7 linked regions of the Homo sapiens genome follow. The protein of the gene in region 4 interacts with the protein of the main gene of each other region in a biochemical or structural test. Each region holds a gene or a part of one and is shown on either strand. Other genes may lie near its edges.

What was found.
Region 1: the proteins of LCP2 (region 4) and PAG1 form a complex in vitro, tested with the Homo sapiens proteins (one study listed by BioGRID).
Region 2: the proteins of LCP2 (region 4) and ERBB4 form a complex in vitro, tested with the Homo sapiens proteins (one large-scale study listed by BioGRID).
Region 3: the proteins of LCP2 (region 4) and ERBB2 form a complex in vitro, tested with the Homo sapiens proteins (one large-scale study listed by BioGRID).
Region 5: the proteins of LCP2 (region 4) and ERBB3 form a complex in vitro, tested with the Homo sapiens proteins (one large-scale study listed by BioGRID).
Region 6: the proteins of LCP2 (region 4) and GRB2 form a complex in vitro, tested with the Homo sapiens proteins (4 studies listed by BioGRID and IntAct, with this or other methods).
Region 7: the proteins of LCP2 (region 4) and YWHAE form a complex in vitro, tested with the Homo sapiens proteins (one study listed by BioGRID).

The regions. Positions count from the first base shown.
Region 1 is NC_000008.11:80,986,030-80,990,253, forward strand, and holds part of PAG1 (phosphoprotein associated with glycosphingolipid-enriched microdomains 1), read right to left. Parts: intron 3,238-4,224; exon of another isoform or gene 3,041-3,237; intron 1,438-3,040; coding exon 1,341-1,437; intron 1-1,340. UniProt on the Homo sapiens protein: Negatively regulates TCR (T-cell antigen receptor)-mediated signaling in T-cells and FCER1 (high affinity immunoglobulin epsilon receptor)-mediated signaling in mast cells.
Region 2 is NC_000002.12:211,419,042-211,423,265, forward strand, and holds part of ERBB4 (receptor tyrosine-protein kinase erbB-4 isoform JM-a/CYT-1 precursor), read right to left. Parts: intron 3,064-4,224; coding exon 2,966-3,063; intron 1,571-2,965; coding exon 1,400-1,570; intron 1-1,399. UniProt on the Homo sapiens protein: Tyrosine-protein kinase that plays an essential role as cell surface receptor for neuregulins and EGF family members and regulates development of the heart, the central nervous system and the mammary gland, gene transcription, cell proliferation, differentiation, migration and apoptosis.
Region 3 is NC_000017.11:39,713,366-39,717,589, reverse strand, and holds part of ERBB2 (receptor tyrosine-protein kinase erbB-2 isoform a precursor), read right to left. Parts: intron 2,305-4,224; coding exon 2,231-2,304; intron 2,145-2,230; coding exon 2,054-2,144; intron 1,872-2,053; coding exon of another isoform or gene 1,851-1,871; coding exon 1,651-1,850; intron 1,320-1,650; coding exon of another isoform or gene 1,290-1,319; coding exon 1,157-1,289; intron 1,076-1,156; coding exon 985-1,075; intron 524-984; coding exon of another isoform or gene 422-523; intron 271-421; coding exon 110-270; coding exon of another isoform or gene 106-109; exon of another isoform or gene 1-105. UniProt on the Homo sapiens protein: Protein tyrosine kinase that is part of several cell surface receptor complexes, but that apparently needs a coreceptor for ligand binding. Essential component of a neuregulin-receptor complex, although neuregulins do not interact with it alone.
Region 4 is NC_000005.10:170,256,005-170,260,228, reverse strand, and holds part of LCP2 (lymphocyte cytosolic protein 2), read left to right. Parts: intron 1-1,350; coding exon 1,351-1,363; intron 1,364-2,062; coding exon 2,063-2,192; intron 2,193-3,653; coding exon 3,654-3,703; intron 3,704-4,224. UniProt on the Homo sapiens protein: Adapter protein primarily involved in signaling pathways within T-cells, as well as other immune cells such as platelets, mast cells, and natural killer (NK) cells.
Region 5 is NC_000012.12:56,089,581-56,093,804, reverse strand, and holds part of ERBB3 (receptor tyrosine-protein kinase erbB-3 isoform 1 precursor), read right to left. Parts: intron 1,059-4,224; coding exon 985-1,058; intron 820-984; coding exon 729-819; intron 461-728; coding exon 255-460; intron 42-254; coding exon 1-41. UniProt on the Homo sapiens protein: Tyrosine-protein kinase that plays an essential role as cell surface receptor for neuregulins.
Region 6 is NC_000017.11:75,332,435-75,336,658, forward strand, and holds part of GRB2 (growth factor receptor-bound protein 2), read right to left. Parts: intron 364-4,224; coding exon 266-363; intron 1-265. UniProt on the Homo sapiens protein: Non-enzymatic adapter protein that plays a pivotal role in precisely regulated signaling cascades from cell surface receptors to cellular responses, including signaling transduction and gene expression.
Region 7 is NC_000017.11:1,355,036-1,359,259, forward strand, and holds part of YWHAE (14-3-3 protein epsilon), read right to left. Parts: intron 1-4,224. UniProt on the Homo sapiens protein: Adapter protein implicated in the regulation of a large spectrum of both general and specialized signaling pathways. Binds to a large number of partners, usually by recognition of a phosphoserine or phosphothreonine motif.

The sequences.
Region 1 (4,224 bases), on a different chromosome or scaffold from region 4:
TGTCAACCGTGTTGTGAGTGCCTGCCATGCACCAGGGATGGTGCAGGGTGCTGCAGACACATCATTCAATGAAACAGAAAGCCCTGCCCTTAGGATGCAGACACAAAGTAAGCAAGTTATTCCATTAGTGTCTCACTCTGGGGGAATTAGAAATAGTGTTTCCAAGGGGTATGTGAAAAAATGACAACGGATCCCCCAATCCTTCTGAACTTACCAACACCCCTGTGTGTTCTAAATCCCTGATCATCACGGAGGGGGTGAACTTTTGCTCTCTGGTTCTAGTTGTCTACATCATGGTAGACAGAGAACAGGCACTGGTGTCCTGATTACCCCACAGTTTCCTCATCAGTAAACAGGGGTAACAGGACGCCCTCTTACCTCAGGTAAAAGCATGGTGTAAACTCTAAAGCATGAAGGAAACCTAGCTGCTCCTTCCATCAGCAAGAGTACACAATGCATGATGCAGAGGTTATGCAGAGTGACTGAGTGCGTGCCCAGGGATCAGACTGCCTGGTTCCAACTACAGATCCTTAGCCCGCTGACTATATGATATCAGGCAAATTAGCAACATCTCTGTGGAAGGCAGAACGACCCTGAAAAATGTCTGTCTCCTAATTCCTGGAACTTGTGAATGTGTAATGTTTTGTGGAGGGTATGGAGGGATTAGGGCTACAGGTGGAATTAAGGCTGTTAATTAGATGACTCCCGGATGAGAGGGAAGCCTGGATTATCCAGGTGGGCCCAGTGTAATCACAAGGGTCCCTATAAGTGAATAGGGAGGGGGGAGGGTCAGAGAGGGATGTGAAGAATGAGGGAGAGGCCAATGGATTCTCCTTGAGGCTTCAGGAAGGACCACAGGCCTACGGATGCCCTGATTTTAGCCCAGTGAGACCCATTTCAGACTCCTGACCTCAGAATTGCAAGTCAATAAATTGTTATTTTAAGGCATGAGGTTTGTGGTAATATTGTTACAGCAGCAATGTGCCCAGTTTTGTCACCTTTAAATTGTGAGGAGTAATAATACCTATCTTACAGAGTAGTGTTATTATTAATAACAGTAATCTCGTGGGGTAAATGAATTAGTACATGTAAATGTACTAAAATGTACTAAAAGAGCAAATGAATTAGTACATGTACCAGTCTTAGAACAATGCCTGGCACACAGAAGTGGATTAATAAGTAGCAGTATTCATCCAAATGAGGGGTTCTGCTAAAACTGCTAGGAATACTAAAACTGAGCAATAACACATTTCCTACTTTTTGAGCTATGTATTTTGAAACCTAGGACTTCCAGAGGTGATGAGGCCTGTGTGGAAAGCTGGTGTTTTTGCAGAACTTACTGTCCCCATTGGTGAGTGCCCCATTCTGCTCACTGCTGGCAGGAGCATCTGTTGCCAGGCTAGTAACTGAACGGCTGAACATCTCCTTGTCTGAAGGCTGAAAACAAAAACAAAAACAAAAACAAATGCATCACATTGCTAAGAATCTGGACTGCAGAGCAGAGGAGAAGATCCATGGCTTTTTCAAAAAATTAAAACAGCAGAAACAGAAAACAGAATCTCCTATAATAGTCCCCCCTTATCTACAGAGGGTACATTTCAAGACCCCCAGTGGATGCCTAAAACCATGAGTAGTACTGAACCCTATATAGACTATGTCTTTTCCTATCCATATATGTTATACCTATGATGATGTTTAATTTATAAGTACAGTAATTTAACAATAACCACTGACAATAAAACAATATAATATAATGAAAGTTATGTGAATGTGCTCTTCCTTTCTCTCAAAATATCTTGTATGGTTCTCACCTATTTTTGGATTGTGGTTGACTGTGGGTAACTGAAACTGCAGAAATCAAAACTACAGATTAAGGGGAGCTACTGTTTTTAGATTTAAATTAAGTAAAATAAAATACACTAAATTGAGTTCCTTGTTGACTAGTCACATTTCAAGCGCTCAATAGCCACATGTGGCCAGTGGATACCATATCCAATAGGAGATACAGAACACTTCCAGCACTGCAGAAAGTTCTATTAGACACTGTTGTCCCAGAATCTTAGGGGCACTGGGAATCTTCCAAAGCCATGTGCAGAGCTTCCTGCCTGGTGACCTACACAGGGCTATAGGCAGGTTGTGAGATATCAATTCCCTTAGCTCAAGGCAGGAAGGGAACTGGTTGAAAAAGACCACAGCAGCCTCATCCTTACAACACAGGTGCTGTAAATCATTATTGGTAAAGGTGTGCCATGCTATGAGAAACGTGGAAAGGCATCACCCTTTGTCATGTGAAGGGAACAGACTTAAATCTGGTCAGAGATAGATAAGGCTATTGATTTCTGAAACTATTTTAGAACCAGCAAAGCCTCTGGCTGCTAGGTTCACAGAAACAATAATATGCTGAAAATTAGCTCTGCAAACTTTTTATTTATTTATTTATTTATTTTTTAAGATGAGGTCTCACCTTGTTGCCCAGGCTGGAGTGCAGTAGCATGATTATAGCTCACTGAAGTCTCAAACTCCTGGGCCCAAGAGATCCTCCTGCCTCAGCCTCTGGAATCGGTGGGACTACAGGTATGCACCACTATGTCTGGCTGCTCCCATAAGAGATGGGATCTTGCTATGTTGCTCAGGCTGGTCTCGAACTCCTGGCCTCAAGCGATATGCCCACCCCAGCCTCCCAAAGTGCTGGGATTACAGGCGTGAGCCACTGTGCCCAGCTCTGCAAATCTTTCTTATTCTTACAAATAAACTTAGGACATTTGGAGGGAAGAATGGCATCAATAGTTGGTTTTCTGCAGGGATAGAATGTGTAGATGCTACCTAGAACAATATGCCTGGCTCAGCTATAGCTAAGAGTAGTCAGAAAGCAAGTTGGTGTTCATGTATTTCTTTAAATACCCAACTTGTCTCAGGTTGCAGCCCAAATCACTGCAAATGTGATTTGCTCCCTGTTCTTCTCACAGCCTGCACGTTCCAAGAGGCTATCTCATGCTCCAGGATTCTACAAGGAAAGTTGTGATGTAAACAGCACACAAACCTTTGCTAGTTGGCCTCACAAATTCTCTGACTCTTGATTGGAAGCCAGTAATACACAGCAGATAGTTCATGCTGTGCAATGATCCAAAAGTGTATTGGAAGTCAGCTGTTTCCATCCAATGCAGCTCATTCACGTCTGATGAGCCCCCAGTGAGATGGGTCACTGTGTTAGGTTGCCAGGAACTTGCAATGCAGGTGCTAATATCCCAGAAATGATGTTATAAATGGGCAGGCATGGGTGTGGGGAAGGAAGACTCCCAGGTGGGCCCATAACAGCATAATCGATCACAGCTGAAGTTACCATAATCTAGACTCTAACTACTATTCCTAATCTTTGCTTCTATGAGATGAAGAATCCGCAAGTTGTATAAGATCTAGGAGCTGAAAAGCTCTTAAGGAGAGCTGGGTGGGCGAGCGTGTGTACATGGGTGCCAGTGTCCGGGTAAGCATGCGTTCCTGTGTGTGCTCGCGCTCTCTCACAGACATTCACATCCATATAAATGAGGCTATGGGTTGGGGCAATAATGAATTATATGGTGGATGAGGAAGAAGGCAGGGGATGGAAGCCAGCTTTTTCCTTTTATCCACCTGCCACTCTCTTCCTATCTCGCCCAGGGCTGCTGCTGACCTTGAGTAGAACAGCGGGAACCCAAGCTCTAGGCCAGTGGCTCTCACACTCGAGCATACAACTGGATCACCTGGGGTGCTTGCGAGCCTTTTACTGGGCCTCACCCCCAGGAAAATTCGCATTTCTAAGGAGCTCCCAGGTGCTGCTGCTGCTGTGGGTGGAGGTCCAGGCCACACTGCAGAAGAACCCCTGCTCTAGAAGGAAGTGAGGAATGGCGGTGGGAGCCCTTCCCCAGCCCCACCTCACCACCCAACTGGCACCAGGAGAATGGTGGAGTGACGAAAGGCAGGGGCCTGGAGTCTGCATGGGGAGAAGCGACAGTGGGGCGTTCCCTCCATCCCTCCCACCCTCCCTGCTGAGGCCACCACAGCAGCAATCACCAGGCAGAGCAGGGGCGCTGGGAACAGATGAGAAGTGGCGACAATGTGGACAACCAGGGATGGGAACAGGGCGAGAAACAGAGTAAAGGGAGGAGTGGTGATGAGGGCCCAGGAAAGCTGCGAAGGGTGAGGTGGGCATGTGGATGCAGAGGGGAGGGAAGGAAAATCCTGGGGGTC
Region 2 (4,224 bases), on a different chromosome or scaffold from region 4:
GATGCATTTTATAAGAAAACCACCTGGGAAATTTCCCAAACAAGACAAGTCCCAGACTCTAATCACATCATGGAAATAACATGCTTCAGTAACTTTGAAGCAAACCTACAGTGTAGTAGGCAGATATCTAGATTACATTATTCCTCTCTTCCACTGACTAGCTGTGTGACACCAGTCATATCACCTGACTTCTCTGTGGCAAGTTTCTTCCTTTGAAAGAAGGGGATGATAATAATAGAACCTCATGAAGTTTGTTTAAGGATTAAGGAGGTTAACATATATGTGTTGAATAGTAAACACCAGGGGAATATTACTTATTACAATCAATATGAAATAAAGAAAATTATGTTTGTTAGATAATGAGCAGCAAGTTGAAAATATTCTTATGGCTATGGTCAAGAGAAATCGGATGCTGTCGGTTCTACTAGCTATGATAATGTTCTTAGATTAAGAGAAAAGAATTATCTTCTAGAAAAAATTAAGCATCATGTTTATATCTTATCAATGGAAGAAACTGATTACAGACACAAATTTACTACTTCTTCATGCTCCGTACTGGTCAGTGAATACTGGATTACAGCACTTACTATGCAGTCCCTCTATCTGTATGATTCTTTGATTAAGGTTTTCACTTCTTGAAAGCAGAAGTTGTATCAAAATTCTTTGAGTCTTAAATGTATACTAATGCTTCACATACAGTGGTACTCAATATATGTTGAATGTATGAGGAATGAATTTATAAAAATAAATGCATGGATTTGACAGCTTTCAAAGAAAGAATGGAATTCATATAGAGTAGGTTTAACATTTAAAATGTAAAGTGTTTTCAGAAACTTCCTTCAAAACTTAAATCTACTTCTTAAAAACAAAAATCTACTTCTCAGCAGCCTTTTCGATGTGATTAGGTTCAAAGGACTGCACGGTTTTCTGTGTTTCTACTTCAACTTGACAGAAAATATTTAATTTTTCTTAAATAAGTGAAAGAGATTTATACTTGTATTACTTCTTGACTAATATATCATAATATCTTTTTAAGAAAGAAAAGTAGAAAGCCTACTTGGTAGGAATTTTCATTTATTTATATACACATAATGGTTTTATTAGTTGGAATTGTTTTTTAAAGTTAAGATTTGTTTTAAATAAATTAAGATGAGGAAAATGTTTTGCTTCTGAAATCTTGAAGGTATTTCAGAGTACATGTTGTATTGTCCATGCTTGTCTTCCAAAATTAACTACATATAGCAAGATTGGCACATCTTTTGTGGGTATGGTATATTTTTAATCTAGGCATCACATTGATTTGAGCTATATAATTATTTTGAAATGTTAGTGCTTATGAACTATTACATGATTTTATATCTCAGAAAGAATATGATATGTGTATATAATTATTTCTTACCCTATTCGAGTCAATTCTTGCTCTGGAAGTATAGATGGGAGGTGGGATGTTGAAAGCCTGAGGGACCAAGTACTCCTCAGCATCCATCATATCTTCCAAATCCTCTTCATCCAAGAGATTCTGAAAGAACTTGCTGTCATTTGGACTGGGAAGCTTCATACGATCATCACCCTAAAAGAAAGATTGCCCATCAGACACAAATATGATTCTTTCTTATCTTAAATATGTGGTCTCTGCAATAAATTTATGTAATATCATAACAAATGGTTGAAAAATTCATACACACATTTTAAAAAAACAAGTCTTTAGCACAACCACCGGCCATTAAGAAACCTATAACATGCTTAGAAATGATAGGGCCAGGTAAACAAACTTTATACAAGGAGAATATGATAAATGCCATTAGAGAATAATAAAGCAAAATCAAAAGATGTTTTTAGGGAGGTAAAATCAATTTCAGGTCTGAAAATAATTGTTCATTGCCCAGATAGTGTATGGGTTGCAACTTTAAGAATAAACAATAAAAGGTGATCAATTTATCAACGTTTATTTGGTTGGTTTGATGCTGTAGGATTATCAGGACCATAGGGTCTATACTTTATTCTATAGCATACTGACTGCATTATCAAAGTAGGGGCATTCAAAACTCACAGTGCAAGTGGCAAATAGAGTAAAGGAGTATGAGAAAGACACCAAAACCTTTGTTATGCTCTTCCTCACCTCGTCTATTTCTTAAGTATTTTTCCTATATTTTTAAAGTTACATAATTTTTGGAAACAATTTCAGTTCATGAAAACTAATTTTGGGGAAAAAATAAATGGAAATAAGTATCTTCTAAAACCTAGCTTTTATCTTTATGTCAGACTGTCGATATGAAAATAAAGGCTACCTTGCTTTACTGAGGAAACATAATACACTCTAGTCCAAGGCCCATTTGTTTAGAGTTTAGGTGAAATTAATCCTAGAGAAATATATTATTATTTTTTAATTATCCAAGTCTATCTATTTTTCTAGTGTTAAATATAAAATATTTCTTTGGTTGGTTGATTAAAATGTGCATCAATTCATTTGAATTGAGTTATTGCTTAGATACTGCATATCTCTCCAAATAAAACAAAACATATTTTAAAATATTTTTGGGGAAATTAAATAATATACTGAAACTTTTGATTCACTGTCTTCAAGCATGGGCAAGATTAAAACAAAAATCTGTCTTCCTTTTGTTCCGAAAAAAGAAAATTATACTAATGAACATGACTTACACATAATGTTAATAAAATCAAGGTGCTAAAATAAGTGTCTGAGGATTAAGACCTCTTTATGTATATGTATAATCATAATTATCTGTTCAGTAGCAGAGCCACTTGAATACTAAGGGAAGGTGCTAAAAGGTGGATCTGACGTGAAATAAAAAGCTCTTTTCCATAAGTCATGTCACATGATAATTCTGCTTAATTAATCAACATGTTTGTGGTCCTTTCCACAGTTCCAAAGTCCTGATACTACTCATTTTGCAGTGAGTTTGCCATTGGCCTAGTCTTAAAGGCATAAGTCAAATGTACTCACCTGAATAACTAGGTATCTTTGAGGGTCTCGAGCCATCCTTGAAAACTCAGCAGCCAGTTCCTTAAATTTAGGTCTACTGTCAGCATCAATCATCCAACCTGGAAATTTACACAGTGAAAATGTCACTATATTCGTAACTAGAAAGGAGTTGAAATTTAAATTTTGTGAAAATATGAGCAAAAGTTTGAAAAATGTTGTTTTAATCGTAATGATCTGAGAAAGAAAGCAAGCTAGTGAAAGAAACGACTCAATTGGTAAGGCTTTATCGGTCTCTTTGTTGATATTCATAACTAAATGTAATGTACTGTAAAACAAAAGATAAATTTTTTCTCTGATGTGTATAGACGTGACTGCAATATAAGTTATTATTTTGTATTAGGAGTGACATAGGAGAGAAGATTTGGTTACAATGCTTACACTGGCACAAACGGGAAAAGAGGAATTAAAAGCAACTTTCTTGTGCTACATTTGTCCTGGTGGACAAAAAAAAAAAAAAAAAAACTAATGCAAAGTGATTGGTAATGCCTGTTCAGCAATAGACATTAGCTTATCTTAGTACTAGCTTGTCTAGTATAAAAATACTATCAGCAATTTTCAAGGTATGTATTCTTATTTAGCTGGGAGTCTAGATAAAGCAGACCTTATCTCTACAGGCTCTGTTTAGCTAATGAGATGACAAGAATAAAAGTATCAAGCTTTCCTTGATTTTCTTGCCAAATTATCCTCTTCTTAGGTATTAAAACCCCGAAAGAAAGGTAAAATTCTCCATTAGGGAAAGTGTTTTCTTGGTTTTACATAATTAATTTCATCAGAGCTAAATTCTGATGAGTTTAAATCATTTCCTATGCTAGTTACAGGATTAAATTATATAAGACATGCATGTTTTTAAACTTTCTTCCATAGATGTCTACCAAACAATATTTAATAGAATAAGGCTGTAAAGCTTGTTCCTTCCTTTTCCGGGAGTTCAGTTTTTATTCCTATTCTGGGAATTTTTTGGGTGTCATTTTATGTATCATTAATGTCATCTGCTTTTTTTCTCCCCAAACAAAGCTCAAATGCTCTGTATTCTATATGCATTCATTTGAAAAAATGCTTGCTAATGCCAAGATGCTAATGAGAAAACAGGTGTTTCTGAAACTATTGAAGCCAAAAAAGGTTAACCACAGTTGAGGTATCGGTTTCTTTCCAACTAAATATTGAGTAAATAGAACTATGCTTAGTGAAAAGGGCAGGCTGACCTGAACTGCAAAGAACAT
Region 3 (4,224 bases), on a different chromosome or scaffold from region 4:
AGAAACAAGATATGACAAAGGGAGAGTTGGTCCCCTTTTATAGTAAGAGCCCCAGAAAGACCCCTGAAAGGAAAGTCCTCCTTTCTGCAGAAAAGACCGTTGGACTCACGAGTGGGTGCAGTTGATGGGGCAAGGCTGGCATGCGCCCTCCTCATCTGGAAACTTCCAGATGGGCATGTAGGAGAGGTCAGGTTTCACACCGCTGGGGCAGCGGGCCACGCAGAAGGGAGGGTCCTTATAGTGGGCACAGGCCACACACTGGTCAGCCTCCTGGGGGGGGCAGAAAAGATTTGTGGGGGGCTGGCACTGACACCCCCAGGGCAGTAGGATCAGGCCCTTAGTTGGGTCCCCTTTGTGCTTCCCAAGGCCACCCAGCAGCAATTTTCGCCATGCTCCTGGGACAAACACCCTTGCTCTTCACCCAGTCTCTGTGGCCCCTCCCTCGGGGCCCTCCTCCAAGCTTGATCCTGGGCAGGGACTTGAGCCAGAAAATGGGAGGCACCCAGAGAGGAAAACGCATTACCTAAGGTGTAACAGCGAGTAACAACAGTCACTGCTCTGTAGAAAGCCTTTCCCGTGCTTCACTGTGCCAAGCCCTGTTTAATTTCATTCTTGCCACACCCCAGCAAGGTAGGTATTATTACAATACCCATTTTAGGAATAAAAAACCAAGGTTGGAAGCAGGAGCTGGGTCTGAATCCAGGTAGTCTGACGCCTGAGCCCACAGGGCTCACCACCCTAGCACAGCCACAGTCACAGCCACCAACACAGACCTCCTTAGAACCTTTTCATAGTCTGAAGGGCCCCAGTGTCCCCCAGGCCCCTTTTCTGCCACTCTGTTGCTGTTCAGGTCTGAGCGCTGAGCCCTCTCCAGGGATATTTTACCAGATAGCACACCCTACTGCATCTCGCCATCCTGCCAAGTCCCTGGCAATCCCCCTCGCTGCCCCCCTCCACCCAGCTCTGAGCCCGCCAGCAGCTCACCGGTCCAAAACAGGTCACTGAGCCATTCTGGGGCTGACACTCAGGGTGGCACGGCAAACAGTGCCTGGCATTCACATACTCCCTGGGGAGCCTGAGAGAAGGGACAGTGGTGAGGGGGTCTGAGAGGAGCCCCATGCACCCCTCCAGCCACCCTCTCCTCCGCCCCTCATACCCCTGCAGTACTCGGCATTCCTCCACGCACTCCTGGCCCCGAAGGAACTGGCTGCAGTTGACACACTGGGTGGGCCCTGGACCCCAGCAGTGCCCTCGGGCGCACAGCTGGTGGCAGGCCAGGCCCTCGCCCACTGCAGTGAGGAGGAAGGGACCGCAGGGGACTTTTAGGGGAGGCCCCAGGTCCAAGTGAACCAGGGAACTGGCTGTGGGCATGGCTGTGGGCTGGAGGGGTGGGGACAGGTGGGGCCGATGTAGGGAGAGGAAGAGTTCTGAGATTTCAGAAACAGAGGGGGAGGGAAGGATGCCAAGGCAGGTAGGACCCAGCTAGAGAAGCCATGCCAAGAGGCCAAGCCAGCCAGAGCTGTGCTGAGTCAAGAAGGGTGCACAGAGACGGGCAGTCTGCACAAGTCCAAGAACGCTGCTGCCAGGGCCCCCTGGGCACTGCTGTGTGCTGGCAGATGGGGAGTGCGCACACTGGGCTCCCTGTCTTACCACACTCGTCCTCTGGCCGGTTGGCAGTGTGGAGCAGAGCTTGGTGCGGGTTCCGAAAGAGCTGGTCCCAGGGCACCGTGTGCACGAAGCAGAGGTGGGTGTTATGGTGGATGAGGGCCAGTCCACTGCCCAGTTCCCTCAGTGAGCGCAGCCCCAGCCAGCTGATGCCCAGCCCTTGCAGGGTCAGCGAGTAGGCGCCACTATGGGAGAAAGGTGGGCACCTTACCACGGACCCCTTCCCGGTCAGCAAAGGCTATTCTCATCTTCCTCCATCCCCAGCACACTCTGCAGACTTTCATGGAAAGGTTACTGCTACAGGAGTACTCCCTCAGGCCCAAAGCTTCCCACAGGGACTCCTCCCTGGGACTCCTCCCCATCAGGCCCCCTCTTTCTCAGTGCTCACTTGTGCAGAATTCGTCCCCGGATTACTTGCAGGTTCTGGAAGACGCTGAGGTCAGGCAGGCTGTCCGGCCATGCTGAGATGTATAGGTAACCTGCAGGCAGAGGGTGAGATTAAAGGAGTGGGGACAGGACAAGGACTCCCAGCCCCTGCAGAACAGGATGCAGAGACAGAGCCCACCTGTGATCTCTTCCAGAGTCTCAAACACTTGGAGCTGCTCTGGCTGGAGCGGGGCAGTGTTGGAGGCTGGGTCCCTGGAGGGGTCAGGAGAGGAGTCAGCAGGGCCAGGAACAGGGTGGACATCACTCCCAGCACTGGCCATGCCAGCCACTCCCCACCATGAATGCCTTCACTCAAACCCTTTGCCCATCGAGCCCAGCTGTTCCCATCCTGGGCTTCAAAGCCCAGGCCTTAGTTCGGCAACATCTATCAAAACAGTATTTATATCCTTTGATCTAGAAATCTTATTTCTGCCTGGGCTCAGTGGCTCACGCCTGTAATCCCAGCACTTTGGGAGGCCGAGGCGGGCGGATCACGAAGTCAAGAGATGGAGACCATCCTGGCCAACATGGTGAAACCCCATCTCTACTACAAATACAAAAATTAGCTGGGTGTGGTGCCGCGCGCCTATAGTCCCAGTTACTCGAGAGGCTGAGGCAGGAGAATCACTTGAACCCGGGAGGCAGAGGTTGCAGTGAGCCGAGATCACACTACTGCACACCAGCCTGGCGATAAAGCGAGACTCTGTCTCAAAAAAAAAAAAAAAAGAAAAGAAATCTTATTTCTAGGAATGTGGCCTAGGGAGACACTGGCCCATGTTCCCAGAGCCACACACAAAGTGGAACTGTTTGTAAGAGTGAAAATGGAACATGATCTAAATGTCTATTAGTAAATAGGGGAGCTGTTAAATAAAACCCCGAGCCACCCAGCCACATAATAAAAACCAACATTTAGGAGCACCTAGTATCTGCCAGGCACTGTTCTAAGAGCTTTACAAATATTAACTCATTCAAACTTTATAATCATCTGGCCAGGCATGGTGGTATAACCATCTTATGAAGTTGGGACTGTTCTTGCCCCCACTTTACAGATGAAGAAACTGAGGCACAGCACAAGGGTCACATGCCTAGTAAGTGGTAGAGCCGGGTTTCAAACCCAGGCAGTCTGGCTCCCAAGTCTGGGCTCTTAGCTGCCTCTCCTTGCCGCCACCTGCTCTGCAGCTATTGAAAGAACAAGGCAGTTCAATGGGAACTGTCATGACCGGCTCTCAAAGCAAGGTGCAGACAGTGCTCCCTATATGTTCCCATTTACAGAAACCAACCTCCCCACCAAAACGACGAAAACCACACTTCACTGTGTGTGTGTCTACAGATGCATAAACGGTCTAGGTGAACACACACACTGTTAACCATGGCCCCCTCTGGAAAGGGGAGTGGAGGTAAAGGAAGTGTGAAAGGGAATTTTTTTTTTTTTTTTTTTTTTGAGACAGGGTCTCATTCTGTCACCCAGGCTGGAGTACAGTGACATGATTTCAACCCACTGCAACCTCCACCTCCCAGGCTCAGGTGATTCTCCCACCTCAGTCTCCCTAGTAGCTGAGACTACAGGTGCGTACCACCATGCCCGGCTAATTTTTTGTGTTTTTTTGTAGAGATGGGATCTCACTATGTTGCCCACGCTGTTCTTGAATTCCTGGGCTCAAGCAATCTTCCTGCTTCAGCCTCCCAAAGTGCTGGGATTACAGGTGTGCACCACGGCGCCTGACCCTTTTTTTTTTTTTTCTTTTTGAGACAGGGTCTCACTCTGTCGCCCAGGCTGGAGTGCAATAGCGAAATCTCAGCTCACTACAACCTCCACCTCCCGAGTTCATGCAATTCTCCTGCCTCAGCCTCCCAAGTAGCTGGGATGATAGGCGCATGCCAGGAAGCCTGGCTAATTTTTTATATTTTTTAGTAGAGATGGGGTTTCACCATGTTGGCCAGGCTGGTCTTGAACTCCTGACCTCAAGTGATCTGCCTGCCTCGGCCTCCCAAAGTGCTGGGATTACAGGCGTGAGCCACCGTGCCTGGCCCCAATTCATTTCTTATTGAAGTATAACTTATATACAATAAAATGCACCGGGTGTGGTGGCTCATGCCTGTAATCCCAGCACTTTGGGAGGCTGAGGTGGGCGG
Region 4 (4,224 bases):
GGATGCTCTGTGGGGCTGAGGGAAGAAAGTGTGCCATGTGGCTCAAGGAGCCAGCAGTGACTTCCTAGAGGAGGTGAGATTTATGCTGGTCATTCAATGATAGGGAGGACACAGAATAGAGTCATTCTTAAAGAAAGCCCATGGGGATTCCCCTCAGGAGTGTCCTGAGCAGGTGGATACCAGTGCCCACGGAGGCTGCAGGGACAGTGAGAACAGTGGCTTGGCTGCAGAGATAGGAACAAGGCAGAGGTAAGGCTGGACAGTGAGGATAACATCACATTCCAGGTTCCCTGTCTCTGGAAGGATTGACACTTGTGCTCATGAGAATCTGGGAGTTGTGTTTTCTGGAACCAGAGGGAATATACTTGCAAAAGTATTGAAAAGTGATTTTGTTGTGTGGGGTTTATGAGCCCATGTGTGTTTATTTATGCAGCTCTTTGCTGGGACTCCCAGTTGGCCAACTGGGATGAATGATTTTGACTGTGGCCTTTTTCGCCTTCTCTCAGTGTGTGATAGGATTGATGATGGCAAACTTTTATTAAAGAGCACTTAACATAAGCCAGACACAAGTAGTAGCTAATTTAATCCTTCTAACAACACTTTGAGAAAGATGCTGTTTCATCATTACAGATCTGGCCTAACCAAACAAGTTCAAGCTGGCCCTTTTGGTCTACTAGTTGGTGGCAACATCATTTTTTCTCTTTGAACCTCATTTCTTATCTGAGTGGAAGAGAAAATAGCCCCTCCCTTGTCTAATTTCCCAAGGTTGCTCTGAAGATAAAAATGGTGAGGGTTGTAGATGAACCTTGTAAGCCACCGTATAAATATGGTCTTATTGATCTTAAGAAGAGTGGCCATTGCAAAAGAGAGCCAAAAAGAAGACTGAGCTTTGGTCAGACATATTTGGGGTTGAATCCATCTCTGCAACTCCTGGCAAGCTAAGGAAGCTTCCTCAGCATCATGCTTTTGTAAAATGAGGATGTTAAATTTTTGGGGGGTCACTAGGGGAACTGAATGAAATCTTGTGTATGAATCTTTTGGACACATTGTAGATATTGTCAATATTATTACATCTTTGGGCCCTTTTAGGCACCTCAGAATCTATTTCATGCTGAGTATATGAGGAGAGTCTCATACTGGAATGCCCTTAGATGACTGTTTGTATTAAGAAATTGTAAAACACTTAGCAACTTCTATTATTCTCCACAGTATATTTATTATGAAGATGTATAACTGCCAGAGAAAGAAACAGATACCTATTTGATTTATTTGATTGAGAAATGCAGTTTTTATTTTAAGAATTGTATTTTGATGATAGCTTAATATCTTTTTTTTTCTTCCCCTTCCCAGGATGAAGATGATGGTATGTTCGGAAACACATTCTTACAGCCTATAACTCATTCTTTCATTTTCCTGCTCAGGCATTCAAGTGGAATTGTTTAGTACAGGAACCCCATAGAATCAATTATAAGTCTTAAATTAGTATTAAGTAGACTTATGTCAATTGGCATACTGCATAACTATCGTAAAATGGATTACTTGGTTAGATTACCGAAGAAGACTAAATTCATGTGTAACAGTGCAGATTATTTAATTGTATCACAAAATGTAAAATTGCATGCATGGTTTGATGGAAACATTTCTCACATTTATGTCTTCTAACACACGTGGGTAAAGAATCAGTAACTGCCAATGAATGAGATAGCATAAAATTTTGACTTTCATAAAACAAAACTTGTAAATCATTTCTGAAATTTATAAGGTTTCCAGCTGACAATTTTCTGCCAAGTTAACATTTCAAAAATGAAAAACAAAATCAATGTGTATTTTAGAGTATCATCTAGATCTGCGCCCCTTTGTAAATGGATTCTATGGTGGTTAAGTCATCTAGAAACACCCTGGGAGCAAGGTTCCATCCTACTACTTCCTAATTACATCTGATCTGCTTTATTTTTGTGTCCTCTTTATACTAGCTGTTTCTAACTGGGGGGCGGTTATGGAATGTTTCTTAGTGACAGCTGGGGCCTGCCAATCTCATTCATTGTTTTCTACTTCTGCACAGTGCATCAGAGACCTTTGCCCCAGCCAGCACTACTTCCTATGAGCTCCAACACTTTCCCTTCAAGATCTACTAAGCCAAGTCCCATGAACCCTCTCCCATCCTCTCACATGCCTGGAGCATTCTCAGAAAGGTTTGTAGCTCTGTCATGAAATTCTAGCTTAATATAATGTTTAGGTCCATCCAGTACTGAAGTAATGCCAGGCAGATTGAGAAAGAAGGAAATGACGGGTAGATAGTAGGGTCTGAACATTTTGGGTCTTAAGACATAAAACCAAACTGAGCATTAAGAACGATATGTTAATCCACCAGTGTCCTCTGAGTCTCTGCTTGAGGTGAGAGGGGTGAGGAATTGACTTCCTCCTTGATCCCTCCAGATAGAATGGGCCTTTTGGTAGAAAACAAAGAATATTTTCACTTTATGAGTTCAAACAAACAACAATAATTAAGAAACCCAGTTAGTCTAAGTACTTGAAGTTCATCTGCATCTTAGTTGGGGAGACTGAGAAAATGCGCCTCGTGCTTGGCTGATGCTAGGAATTCATTGCAGTCTCTGTCCCCCTGTTTTCTCAGTAGCAGCTGTGTTTCTCAGGGCTGGTATGAGGCCGCCCAGGGGCAGATGCATGAACAGGAGAAAGGCCCAGTCATTGTCCCCAAACAAGCCCACGGGCAGCCTGTGGTGTCCCCCAAGTCCTCCAGCCCTGTAGGCTTACCTTCTCCCTTAATATTCAAGGAGAGAAGCCAAGATCCTTCCCTAATATTGTAGAAAACTCAACCACCCACAAGACTCATCTACCCCCACCAACTCCTAGCAGGATTCTCACAATGTTTCCTCTGCCCTGGGACCCTCTGGCCCTGAGTTTCTGCTGCTCTTCTCCCTCTTCCCGCTGGCATCTGCTGCCCTTGTCTGCTGACCCTCCTGCTGCTTTCCTCCATGCTAGCCCCAACCCCATCCTTCATTTGCACAAAATCCCACTCACACAAGGTTGCTGTGCAGAGCAGACTTTTCCCAAAGGTTTAGACTGATGGGTGCAGGAGTTGCTGCTCAGTGTGGAGGGAACAGACTGCATTTCAGGGCCCTCTGGGCCCGCCTCCCCACCCCAGCCCTGCAAATGCTATCACCGTCTGCTGCAGAGCCCACCTAACATGCACTTCCCTTCTCACCTGGCTTACTCTCTCCTTGCAGACCCTAAGCCCTGGGGATTCACTGCTCACCAAAGACAAGCCCATTAATATAATTTCCTAGCAAAAGGGAAGTCTTCTGAGAAGAGGACTTCTGTATTCTCCCAACTCAAAGAGCTCAAGTTGCAGCCAATTTTTAAAGTAACTGTTAAGTGCCCTTTACACAGTTGAATGTTGTTGCTGTTCTGCTTTATAAAGCTTGTTAGACTTTGGCATGGTCCACAGCGGAATGTAGTTCCATTCCCTGTGTGCTGTGTTCTGTCCCTGTGCCCAGCCCCCATGGTTTTGGGGGCAGCAGGGAAAGTGATACCAAATCAAGAAGCATTTGCAGCCTGGCTTCCCTAACCCAGCTCCCCTGTCTGGCCCCATCACCCCAATCCAAATAAATTTTGTTCTTTTTCTGTCTCCTCAGTAACAGCAGTTTTCCACAGAGTGCCTCCCTGCCACCATACTTCTCTCAAGGTTTGTACTCTGGGCTTTTGTGACGTGCTTCAGCCATCAAGCCTTTATGACTGGATCCCTAACCTGTCCCAAAAGCTTTCGACAAAGGTTTTATTGTTTCCTAAAAGCATCTGATTTCCTCATTCAACATTTAATTCCGTGTCTGCAGTGTGCCAAGGGCTGTCGGAATGATAGGATAGTACCTAAAACACAACACATACACACACACGTATACATATACATGCCCATACACACATGCACATATACATGCACACACACACATGCATACACATGTACACATATATACATGTGCACACAGGTATACACATATATACACATACACAATACATGCACACACATGCACATGCATACACACATACATACATGGACACACCTACACACACTTCACCAGGAAGCCAGCCCTCATCCCCAATCTTCCTGTGCAGAACTATTCCTCCAGCTCCGGTTTCCCTACGGAATCCTCAGAATCCTGTTTGCCTTTCTCTGCAGTTTTAGATTTCCATGATCAATCTGTCCATGGT
Region 5 (4,224 bases), on a different chromosome or scaffold from region 4:
CCCAGAGGAGCACAGTGGGTCACACACTTTGCCCTCTGCCACTGGAAAGGAAGGGGTGGGTTAGGAGAGGAGTCTGAGGACTCCCAGCAAGCCCTCTCTTCATTATTCTTCCTCGTTACTGCTTCCAGCCTAACAGCCCCCTTCTCCTTGGTTCCATCCCTCAACCCTACTCCCACGTCTAGGGCAGAATAGTCCTTTCAGCCCTCTCCTCCCTGACTCCCTATTCTCACCACCTAGCAGACCCTTTCCCTCACCGCAGTCTCTGCGCGGCCGATTATGCTTGATGTCTAGTCGCTCTTCCGTAGGCCCCCGAAGCACCTTGGTCCAGTTCAAAGAGTGGTGGTAGCAGAGCTGCCTATTGGCACTTATATAGATACGCCCAGCACTAATTTCCTTCAGGGATCGGAAGCCCAGAGATGTGACATTCAAGTTCTTCATGATCAACAATGAGAAGCCCCGGCTGAGAATAAGGAGACAGGATGAGAGGAGAGACTACTAAGGGAACATTAACTATTCAAAGGATTCATGTTAGTCAAGAAATTTGCTCAGTGCTAGTCAGATCCACTGAGAGGGAATCCCCCTCCTTTTGCCTTTTCCTCGTGAAACTCTGAAACCCTTTGGTTTTGAGGCACTGCTGTATGAGACAGTGCCTTGTATTTTACTAAAGAATGCCTATGACACAGGCTTCATTGCCTGAAGATGCCATTTCCTCCATACCCTTTACTCACTTGTAGAGGCTTCTGCCTCCAATGGTTGTCAAATTGGAAAAAACACTGAAGTTGTGCATGTGGGGCGGCCAGGACTGGATGTTCAGGTAACCTGAGGGGTTGGAGAGAGGCATATGGGCAGGGAGCCTTCTTCTTTCTTGGGTTCTCCTGGCTCCTCCCCTATAACTTGGGACGTGATTTTCTCAAGTAGTTATACCGCAATTTATGCCAGTGGTTCACCTATTCTTCTAGAAAGGGCAAACTCTCTGCCACTCACCTGTGATCTCCCGTACTGTCCGGAAGACATTGAGCTTCTCTGGGTCCAGGGCAGGGATCTTGTGCCAGGGGTCTCTGAATAGAACAGTAGAAACCAGTCAATAAGGTAAAGGTATAACTCAATGGCAATGAGCACACCCAGCCTCAGCATTTGGTTTCTAAATATCATTCTCCACTAAAAGGAAACATTCCTTGGAGAAATGGCTGGGATGGGGGAAATATAATATAAGCCCAGAGCATCTTGTGCAAACAAGACAAGACTCAAAGAATTAAGGGTACAGCCCAAAGAACACAGGAGCCAACTTGGAGGGGCTGGCTAAAATAAATAATGATTGTAAAGGATTATAACCATTGACTAGAATAAAATAAGTATCCATAAGAGTAAATAGGAAAGGAAGACCTTTTTTTTTTTTTTTTTTTTTTTTTTTTTTTGAGACAGAGTCTTGCTCTATCGCCCAGGCTGGAGTACAGTGGCAGCAATCTCAGCTCACTGCAACCTCCACCTCCTGGGTTCAAGTGATTCTCCTGCCTCAGCTTCCTAAGTAGCTGGGAATACAGGAGCACACCACCATGCCTGGCTAATTTTTTGTATTTTTAGTAGAGACAGGGTTTCACCATGCTGGCCAGGCTGGTCTTGAACTCCTGACCTTGTGATCCGCCCGCCTCGGCCTCCCAAAGTGCTGGAATTACAGGCATGAGCCACTGCACCTGGCCTTTTTTTTTTTTTTTTTTTAAGAGACAGGGTCTCACTCTGTTGTGCAGAGTGAGTGCACTGGCTGGAGAGCAGTAGTGCCATCATAGCTCACTGTAACCTTGAACTCCTGGGCCCAAGCAATTTTCCCACTGGCTCCCAAAGGGCTGAGATTACAGGCATAAGCCACTGTGCTCAGCTGGAAAGACTCTTCCTAACAGTAGAATGCCAACAAACAAATGCAGAAGGAATAATGGAATTAGAAAATTATCATTTGGCAACTATCATAACAATAATTGATTCAGGCAATTATCCCAAGACATTCATTAATTGTGAATGGAAAAATAGTAACTTTACAGTAGAAAAACCTGACAGATATCACCTTAACTAAGTGACCAGAGACATCATTGTGAGTGCTGGGACAAATCAACATCACGTACATCCTCAATAGGATGCCCTGAGCTCACAGCCTCTGTGGTGTTCTTATCAAACTCCAGCCTGGCAGCGGCGCATGCCTATAATCCCAGCACTTTGGGAGGCTGAGACAGGAGGATCACTTGAGCTCATGAGTTCGAGACCATCCTGGACAACATGGTGCAACCCTGTCTCTATAGAGAATGGCTTGAACCTGAGAGGTGGAGGTTGCGTGAGCTGAGATCACGCCACTGCACTCCAGCCTGGGCAACAAGAGCGAGACTCCGTCTCAAAAAAAAAAAAAAATATATATATATATACACACACATATATAAATATATAAATAGTATATAATATTTATGTTTATATATATTTATATATATTATTTATATATATATATTTATATTTATATATATTATTTATATATATATATATATATATATATATATAAAATTAGCCAAGCATGGTGGCATGCACCTGTAATCCCAGCTACTCAGGGGGCTGAGGTGCTCGCTTGAGCACGGGAGGCAGAGGTTGCAGTGAGCTGAGATCATGCCACTGTATTCCAGCCTGGGCAATAGAGCCAGACCTTGTCTCAAAAAAAAACTACAAAAACTTGAATCTAATCATGAGGACACATCAAACTAATCCAAACTGAAGAACATGCTGCCCATTACCTAATCTATACTCATCAAGAATATCATGAAAGATAAACAAAACCTGAGGAGCTGTTATAAAGGAGATTGAAGTGCCACGATAACTGAATGTAATGTATGATCCCAAACCTTAGGAGGACAATTAGTGAAATCTGAATAAGGTCTGTAGCTTAGATAATATTTTGTGTTAATGTTAATTTTCCGATTCAAACAACTATGCTGTGGTTATGTAAGAAAATATTATTTTTAAGGAATATACGCTGAAATATAACAGGGGTAAGAAAGAACCATGTGTGAAAATTTACCCTCACGTGGTCCAGAAAAACAATAGCATGTGTTTTGTGTGTGTGTGTGTGTGTGTAGAGAGAGACAGAGAGAGAGAGAAGTGATAAAGCGTATGTGGTATTTTTTTTGGCGGGGGACAGAGTCTCGCTCTTTCACCAGGCTGGAGTGCAGTGCCGCGATCTCGGCTCACTGCAACCTCTGCCTGCCAGGTTCAAGCTATTCTCCTGCCTCAGCCTCCTGAGTAACTGGGACTACAGGCGCACACCACCACGCCCAGCTAATTTTTGTATTTTTAGTAGAGATGAGGTTTCACCATGTTGGCCAGGATGGTCTCAATCTCTTGACCTCGTGATCCACACCTAGTGATCCACCTGCCTCAGCCTCCCAAAGTGCTGGGATTATAGGCATGAGCCACTGTGCCCGGCCATATGTGGTATGTTAACATTTGGAGGATCTGGGTAAAAGAGTGTATGGGGGGCCAGACGCGGTGGCTCACACTTGTAATCCCAACACTTTGGGAAGCTGGGGCGGGTGGATCACTTGAGGTCAGGAGTTCGAGACCAGCCTGGCCTACATGGTGAAACCCTGTCTCTACTAAAAATACAAAAATTAGCCGGGCATGATGGCACACACCTATAATTCCAGCTACTCAGGAGACTGAGGCAGGAGAATTGCTTGAACCCGGGAGGCAGAGGAGGCGGAGGTTGCAGTGAGCCAAGATTGCACCACTGCACTCTAGCCTGGGGAACAGAGTGAGACTTTGTCTTAAAAAAAAAAAAAAAGTATATGGGGAATTTTATACCATTCTTGCAACTTTAGTGTAGATCTAAAATTATGTCAAAATAAAAAATTAAAGGAAAAAAAAAAACAGGTGGTCATAGTGGGTTTTTTTTACACACACACACACATTTTAAATGCTGTCCTATAGACTAGAAAGTCCCTTTGTTCTTTTTGCTCCAAGGAGCAGAATGAGTGAAAACAGCTAAAAGTCATGGGGAGACAGAATTTTCTTTTCTTTTCTTTTTTTTTTTTGAGAAAGAGTCTCGCTCTGTCGCCAGGCTGGAGTGCGGTGGTGTAATCTCGGTTCACTGCAATTTCCGCCTCCTGGGTTCAAGTGATTCTCGTGCCTCAGCCTCCTGAGTAGCTGGGATTACAGGCATGTGCACCACCACACCCAGCTAATTTTTGTGTTTTT
Region 6 (4,224 bases), on a different chromosome or scaffold from region 4:
AACAGAAAAAGAATTACGGACCTGCACCAACTATCGTTTTATTTTTGAAGATCACTGACAGTTATTATCAATCTAAAACATATAATATTATTGACTATGATATATTATTATATACTATTAACATGCACAATCAATATCCTTTGTTAATTCCCTAGAAACGTGAATAAAAAGTATGACATCCATCCCAGTGATCTCAATTTTAAAAAGAGTGTTTGAAACAAGGAGGTGGGTCCAACCCTTCCAAGACTAATGGAGCTTAACTTACGGATGTGGTTTCATTTCTATGTAGTTCTTGGGAATGAAGCCGTCTTTTCCATTAAGCTCTGCCTTGTACCAGTTCTGATCACATTCTTCGTTCAAAACCTGAAAAGAAATAAGACAACAAAAAAACCCAATCATTTCCTTTTCCCTTTAAAAAGATAGTTACAAGACAATTATGCTATCTTTTAGGTCTGTGAACGGTTTCACTCGAAGTATTATCAGTTATACGGATATAAGACTCCTTTTAACTTCAAACAACCAGCATTATGTTAAACTCTGTTAAAATGAAACAGAAATTATCTCTGAAAATGAAAATTCAGGCTCCCAAACATCTGGAATGAAACCCTCAGTAAGGAAGGAGAAAGAAGAATGGCAAGTATTAGTTGTTTTTTTTTTTTAAGACGGAGTCTTGCTCTGTCGCCCAGGCTGAAGTGCAGTGGCGCGATCTTGGCTCACTGCAACCTCCACCTCCTGGGTTCAGGCGATTCTCCTGCCACAGCCTCCCGAGTAGCTGGGATTACAGGCGCATGCCACGTTGCCCAGCTAATTTTTGTATTTTTAGTAGAGATGGGGTTTCACCATGTTGGCCAGGCTGGTCTTGAACTCCTGGCCTCAGGTGATCTGCCCACCTTGGCCTCTCAAATTGCTGGGATTATAGGTGTGAGCCACTGTGCCCGGCCAGTTTTTTTGTTTGGTTTGGTTTTTCTAAGAGAGAAACCTGGAGAAGAGGTTCTGGAAAATGGCAAACACATAGGAGAATAAGGGAGCCTGACGAAGACAAAGTCTACTTTCTGGGAGAGAGAGGTGTCACAGCAGAACTAAGCAGCAACAGAACCTTTTATTAGACTCCTCTAGAGATCTTCCAACCGACCTCCAGAATCTACAGTGATACAGTCCTGGATCCCCTCATGGCTTCTCTGGGTTACCGCAAGTACGGGTCACCCACCAAACAGCTCCAGAACACTGCTGCTTGTGAGGACAACCATATGCCCTCGTATGGGAAAACTATTTTCAGGAAAAAGCATGGCAAATCCTACTCAGTTCAATAACCCAAATGCCACATTGTATTAAAGTTAGATAGTGCTGAAAGCATATCAACCAGCAGAATTCAGGCAGATGCCTTGGAAATCCTGGAACTGAACCACTGCATTCTACAGATGTAAAAAAACAAGATCAATGGTCAACCCAGGTTACGAGGTAGTGACCCCACAGAGCTAACATCATGCCCAGACTTTCATATTTCCAATGACCGTTCTCTCCAATGCTGCCTCTTGAATTGCATGTACCAGGCCATGCATAGGCTAGGCCATGACGCTGTAATGTGTAGAGTAATACAGTAGTCCTCCTTATCATGATGGATACGTTTCAAGACCTCCAGTGGGTGCCTGAAACCGTGGATAGTACAGGACTCTAGATATGCTATGCTTTTTCCTACACTATACACATACCTATACGTTTTATTTTTTTTTAGATTTATTTATTTATTTTTTTTTGAGACAGAGTCTCGCTCTGTCGCCCAGGCTGGAGTGCAGTGGCGCGATCTCGGCTCACTGCAAGCTCTGCCTCCCGGGTTCACGCCATTCTCTTGCCTCAGCCTCCCGAGTGGCTGGGACTACAGGCGCCTGCCACCACGCCCGGCTAATTTTTTGTATTTTTTAGTAGAGACGGGGTTTCACCATGTTAGCCAGGATGGTCTCGATCTCCTGACCTTGTGATCCACCCGACTCGGCCTCCCAAAGTGCTGGGATTACAGGCACGAGCCACCGTGCCCAGCCGATTTATTTATTTTGCCCAGGCTAGTCTTGAACTCCTGGACTCAAGGGATTCTCCTGCCTCAGCCTCCCAAAGTGCTGAGATTACAGGTGTGAGCCACCATGCCAGTCCTACCTATAAGTTTAATTTGTAAATTAGGCACAGTAAGAGATTAATGATGACTAGTAGTAAAATAGAAAAGTTTTAACAGGCCAGGTGTGCTGGCTCAAACCTGTAATCCTGGCAGTTTGGAAGGCTAAGGTGGGAAGACTGCTTTAGCCCAGGAGTTTAGGACCAGCCTGGGCAACATAGTGAGACCCTGTCTTTATATTTAAAAAGTGTAAAAGAAAAGTTATAACAATATACTGTAATAAAAATTTATGTGAATGTGTTATCTCTCAAAATATCTTTTTTTTTTTTTTTTGAGTCAGGGTCTTGCTCTGCTGCCCAGTCTGGAGTACAGTGACACCATCACGGCTCATGGCATCTCAACTTCCTGGGTTCAAGCTATCCTCCCATTTCAGCCTCCTGAGTACCTGGGACTATAGGCACTTGCCATGTTGCCCAGGCTGGTCTTGAACTCCTGCGCTCAAGTATCCTCCTGCCTCAGCTTACCTAAGTGTTGAGATTACAGGTGTGAGCCACTGCGATTGGCCAAAATATGTTATTTATATGTTGGATTGCAACTGGCCGCAGGTAAGGGGGGACTAGTATATACGGAGCAGAACAGAATCAGGTACAGCGTGAAAGCCACCCTATGAATTCTAGACTTACAACAAAAGGCAAAGGGCAGAAGGCATAAAGTTGGTAAAAGATAAAACAAAAATGTGAATACAACCCCAAAATGGTGGGCCCAGGAAAATGTTGGCTAGTACAGTGGTAATCTACACTGCATAACAAAGTTCTGAGAGGAAACTGGTAACATTCTTTACAAAATGATTTATTCAAGATGTTGAACAATGCTGTACTCGTAGCCAATCAGAAGCTGGATTGCTCTAAAGTGAGTGCTGTCTGTGTACTGCCATTCAAAGTGAGATGCAATAGAAAGGGTAGATAAGAATGACAGATGATCGACAACTAGCCAGGCTGCATTAATGACTACGCTTTCTTAACAGAGGGTATGCCCTGCAGAGCTTTGCAATGCTGGTGCTTATCTGCTATGCTTACCACACTCTGACTGCAGGTGCCAGACACTGGGTTTCAATGCTTAGGATAAGGTGATAAATCCTGAAAGAGCTAATAAATATGTGTAGCAAACTCTCAAAAAAAATTAGCTAGTGGTAAATCCCAGTGTATTCAAAGTTTCCAAGAGTCACATAAATATTGATAGAGTATTGATGAAAACTTTCTTCTAGTCATCATTTTGTTTCTCGTAAAAAAATCACATCAAAGACTGGAATGAGATAAAACAATATATGCAAGGTACACTCATAATTTTTAAGTCTTCATTTTAAAAACACTGCATTGTGCTGCAGCCAGCAATGGTGCTGTATTGATAGACAATTATAAAGCACACACCAAGGACAAGTTTGAGGAGGGAAAGTGCGCTTGAACCCTGCCGGGCCACCACCACCTGCCCCTGTACTGGCAGCACAGAAAACTCTGAATAGCCTTTGAGAAAAGGAGCTACTTTAAAAGTTATTTAAGGCCAGGATTCTGTTATCTACCAAAAATAAGGTCTAGAAGGAAAATGTGGTCTAATAATGACCTTATAAAGCATCATCCTATAGTAATAATAAAAACCCCACAGGCTTATAAACAATATTTATTATTTTATTTCAGAGACAGAGTCTACGTTGCTCAGGCTGGAGTAGCTGGGACTACAGGTGCGTGCACCCATACCAGCTATGAAGAGTTTTTGAAAATGTCTTAACTCCTGAAATGGTGAGGTGTGTCTACTTTTACTGTATACACTTGTTCTTGGAAGACAGAGAGTCAGACTGACAAAGAGCTGCTTGTAACCTATTTGTGCATCAAAACAGAACAAAGTAATCATTAGAAAGGGACACTTTTGATTTGTGACCAATAACTTTGCAGAAAAAGATAACTCTATTTACCTGCCAGGAGTTCATAGAGCTACACTCTCTTCTTGTCACCTTTACCAAGACAGAGGCAAATCCCTCTAAAAAGTGTCCCCTCCCCCAACAAACACAACTCCAGGGCAACTCCTAGATTTGACATCAACTTAGAACTATGGCTGTCTACAGAACA
Region 7 (4,224 bases), on a different chromosome or scaffold from region 4:
CTGCGTTCAAGCAATCTTCCGAACCTTAGCCTCTTGAGTGGCTGGGACAAACGGTACACACTACCACCCCCAAGATTTTTTAAAAAAAAAAAAAAAAAAAAAAAAAAAAAAAATTTTTTTTTTTTTTTTTTTTTTTTGGGGGACGGGGTCTCGCTCTATCACCCAGGCTGGAGTGCAGTGGCGGGATGTAGGCTAAATGCAAGCTCCGCCTCCTGGGTTCACACCATTATCCTGCCTCAGCCTCCCGAGTAGCCGGGACTACAGGCGCCCGCCACCACACCCGGCTGATTTGTTTTTATATTTTTAGCAGAGGCAGGGTTTCACCGTGTTAGCCAGGATGGTCTTGATCTTCTGACCTCGTGATGTGCCCGCCTCAGCCTCCCAAAGTGCTGGATTACAAGGTTGAGATATTTAACAAAGTATTAATGCAAAAAGAAAATCTTGGACAATACCTCAAAGTTTAAAAAAATTTAATTTCACGTTAATGGAGGCAGGGAAGCAAAGAAAATAAAAGGCAACACAGACGCCATGGAAATGTGATTATGTAAGCCATTTACAGTTTTAAAAGAAAATCCACACTTACTGAGTACTGTGTACTATGTCCAACAAACGATACGATATACCAATAGAAAAAAAAGAGACATAATCTAAGTCCACATCAACTTAAAAATTTAGAAATGGAGGGTAGACAAATACATAACTATTTTACAAGGAGGAGGCTGGCTGTGGTGGCTCATGCCTGTAATCAGCACACTTTGGGTGGCTGATGCGTGCGCGCAGATCACTTGAGGCCAGGAGTTCAAGACCAGCCGGGCCACCATGGCAAAACCTATTAAAAACACAAAAAATTAGGCCGGGTGCAGTGGCTCAAGCCTGTAATCCCAGCACTTTGGGAGGCAGAAGCGGGCGGATCACGTGGTTAGGAGATCGAGACCATCCTGGCTAACACAGTGAAACCCCGTCTCTACTAAAAATACAAAAAAATTAGCCGGGAGCAGTGGCAGGTGCCTGTAGTCCCAGCTACTTGGGAGGATGAGGCAGGAGAATGGTGTGAACCCAGGAGGCGGAGCCTGCAGTGAGCCGAGATCACGCCACTGCAGTCCAGCCTGGGCAACAGAGCAAGACTCCGTCTAAAAACACACACACACACACACACACACACACACACACACACACACACAAAATTAGCCGGGCATGGTGGCGTATGCCTGTAATCCCAGCTACTCAGGAGGCTGAGGCAGAAGAATCCCTTGAACCTGGGAGGCGGAGGTTGCAGTGAGGTGAAACTGTGCCAATGCACTCCAGCCTGGGCAAGAGAGCACAAAAACAAAAGAAGAAGAAGAATGAAGTGCTATTCCAAATAAAGTATTTCAGGGACCCAGAAGGAGGAGCAATTAAAGGGAAAGTCAAATTTGAACTAATCTCAATGGATAAGGAGAAAACAAAACACACTTCAGGTTTAAGCAGAAGCATGAGCAAAGGCATGCGAGTGACTTTAAACTGGAGCTACACGTGGGACAGCTAGACTGGAGTCTGACAAGGAAAGGTGCAACCACCAGTATTAGCTAAATAGCCACAGCTTCTTCAGTTACGATCCCTATCTGGACAAACTCAACTAGCCATTTAGAATGTTTTTACATTGGCTGGGCGCAGTGGCTCACGCCTGTAATCCCAGCACTCTGGGAGGCTGAGGCAGGTGGATCACCTGAGGTCAGGAGTTCGAGACCAGCCTGACCAAGATGGTGAAAACCTGTCTCTACTAAAAATGCAAAAAAAAAAAAAAATTCAGTCAAGCGCAGTGAAGCATGCCTATAATAGTCAACATTAAAGTTCCAATGTATCAGTTAATCCCCTTTCCTCAAACTTTGAAAGGCTTTCACTTAAAAACCCTACTTTGCTTAAGCAGTTGTCCTCAAACAAACCAAAAAAAAACACATACAAAAACCAAAAGGGGCCGGGCGCGGTGGCTCACGCCTGTAATCCCAGCACTTTGGGAGGCCGAGGAGGGCAGATCACGAGGTCAGGAGATCGAGACCATCCTGGCTAACACAGGGAAACCCCATCTCTATTAAAAATACAAAAAATAGGCCGGGCGCGGTGGCTCACACCTGTAATCCCAGCACTTTGGGAGGCCGAGGCGGGTGGATCACGAGGTCAGGAGATCGAGACCATCCTGGCTAACACGGTGAAACCCCATCTCTACTAAAAATACCAAAAATTAGCCGGGCGTGGTGGCGGGCGCCTGTAGTCCCAGCTACTCGGGAGGCTGAGGCAGGAGAATGGCGTGAACCCGGGAGGCAGAGCTTGCAGTGAGCCGAGATCGCGCTACTGCACTCCAGCCTGGGGGACATAGCGAGACTCCGTCTCAAAAAAAAAAAAAAAAAAATACAAAAAATTAACCGGGCGTGGTGGCGGGTGCCTGTAGTACCAGCTACTTGGGAGGCTGAGGCGAGAGAATCGCCTGAACCCAGGAGGCTGAGCTTTCAGTGAGCTGAGATCACGCCACTGTACTCCAGCCACAGCAGCAGAGTGAGACTCCGTCAAAATAAAAAAAAAAAGCAAAAAAACCATTTTGCTACTGCAATATTTACTGTAAAAATTTAAAATAGGCTGGGTGCAGTGGCTCACGCCTGTAATCTCGGCACTTTGGGAGGCCGAGGTGGCTGGATCACTTAAGGTGAGGTGTCCAAGACCAGCCTGGCCAACACTGTGAAAACCCATCTCTACATAAAAATACAAAAATTAGCTGGGTATGGTGGCGGGCGTCTGTAATCCCAGCTACCTGGGAGGCTGAAGCAGGAGAATCGCTTGAAACCGGGAGGCAGAGGTTGCAGTGAGCTGAGATTGCACCACTGCACTCCAGCCTGGGAAACACAGCGAGACTCTCCTCTCGGGGGAAAAAAAAAAAGAAAAAGACAATAGCAAAAAACAACAACAACAACAAAATGCCAACCTACAGAAGAGGAGAAAATACTCACAAACCATTTACTTGCTAAGAGGTTACTATCTGGAATAATGAACTCTCAACACTTAACAAACGAAAAAAACATGAATTCAAAAATGGGCAAAAGGGCCTGGTGCAGTGGCTCAGGCCTGTATTCTCAGCATTTTGGGAGGCTAAGGCAAGAGGATTACTTGAGGCCAGGATTTCAAGACCAGCTTCGGCAACACAGCCAGACCCTGCCTCTACAAAACAAAACAACAAAAAAAAATTTTTTTTTTGAGACGGAGTCTCGCTCTGTCGCCCAGGCTGGAGTGCAGTGGCGTGATCTTGGCTCACTGCAAGTTCCGCCTCCCAGGTTCACGCCATTCTCCTGCCTCAGCCTCCCGAGTAGCTGGGACTACAGGCGCCCGCCACCACGCCCGGCTGATTTTTTGTATTTTTAGTAGAGACGGGGTTTCACCACGTTAGCCACGATGGTCTCGATCTCCTGACCTCGTGATCTGCCCTCCTCGGCCTCCCAAAGTGCTGGGATTACAGGCGTGAGCCACTGCACGCAGCCCAAAAAAAATTTAAAAATTGGCCGGGCGCAGTGGCTCATGCCTGTAATCCCAGCACTTTGGGAGGGAGGCTGAGGTCAGGAGTTTGAGACCAGCCTAACCAAGATAGTGAAACCTCGTCTCTACTAAAAATGCCCCCAAAAATTAGCCAAGCATGGTGGCACATGCCTGTAATCCCAGCTACTTGAGAGGCTGAAGCACCAGAATCGCTTGAATCTGGGAGGTGGAGGTTGCAGTGAGCTGCGATCGCACCACTGTACTCCAGCCTGGCCAGCAGAGCGAGACTCCATCTTAAAAAAAAAAAAAAAAAAGGGCTGGCCAAGCACAGTGGCTCACACCTGTAATCCCAGAACTTTGGGAGGCCGAGGCGGGCAGATCACACGAGGTCAGGAGTTCGAGACTAGCCTGGCCAACACTGTGAAACCCCATCCCTACTAAAAATACAAAAAATTAGCCAGGCATGGTGGCAGGCGCCTATAATCCCAGCTACTTTGGATGCTGAGGCAGGAGAATCGCTTGAACCTGGAAGGCAGAGGTTGCAGTGGGCCAAGATCACGCCACTGCACTCCAGCCTGGGTGACAGTGCCAGGCTCTCCCTCAAAAAAAAGAAAAAAGAAAAAAAAAAGGAAAAGAAAAGGCCAGGTATGGTGGCATCCACCTCTAGTGACAGCTACTTGGAAGGCTCAGGTAGGCGAATCGGCTGAGCCCAGGAAGCCAAGGCTG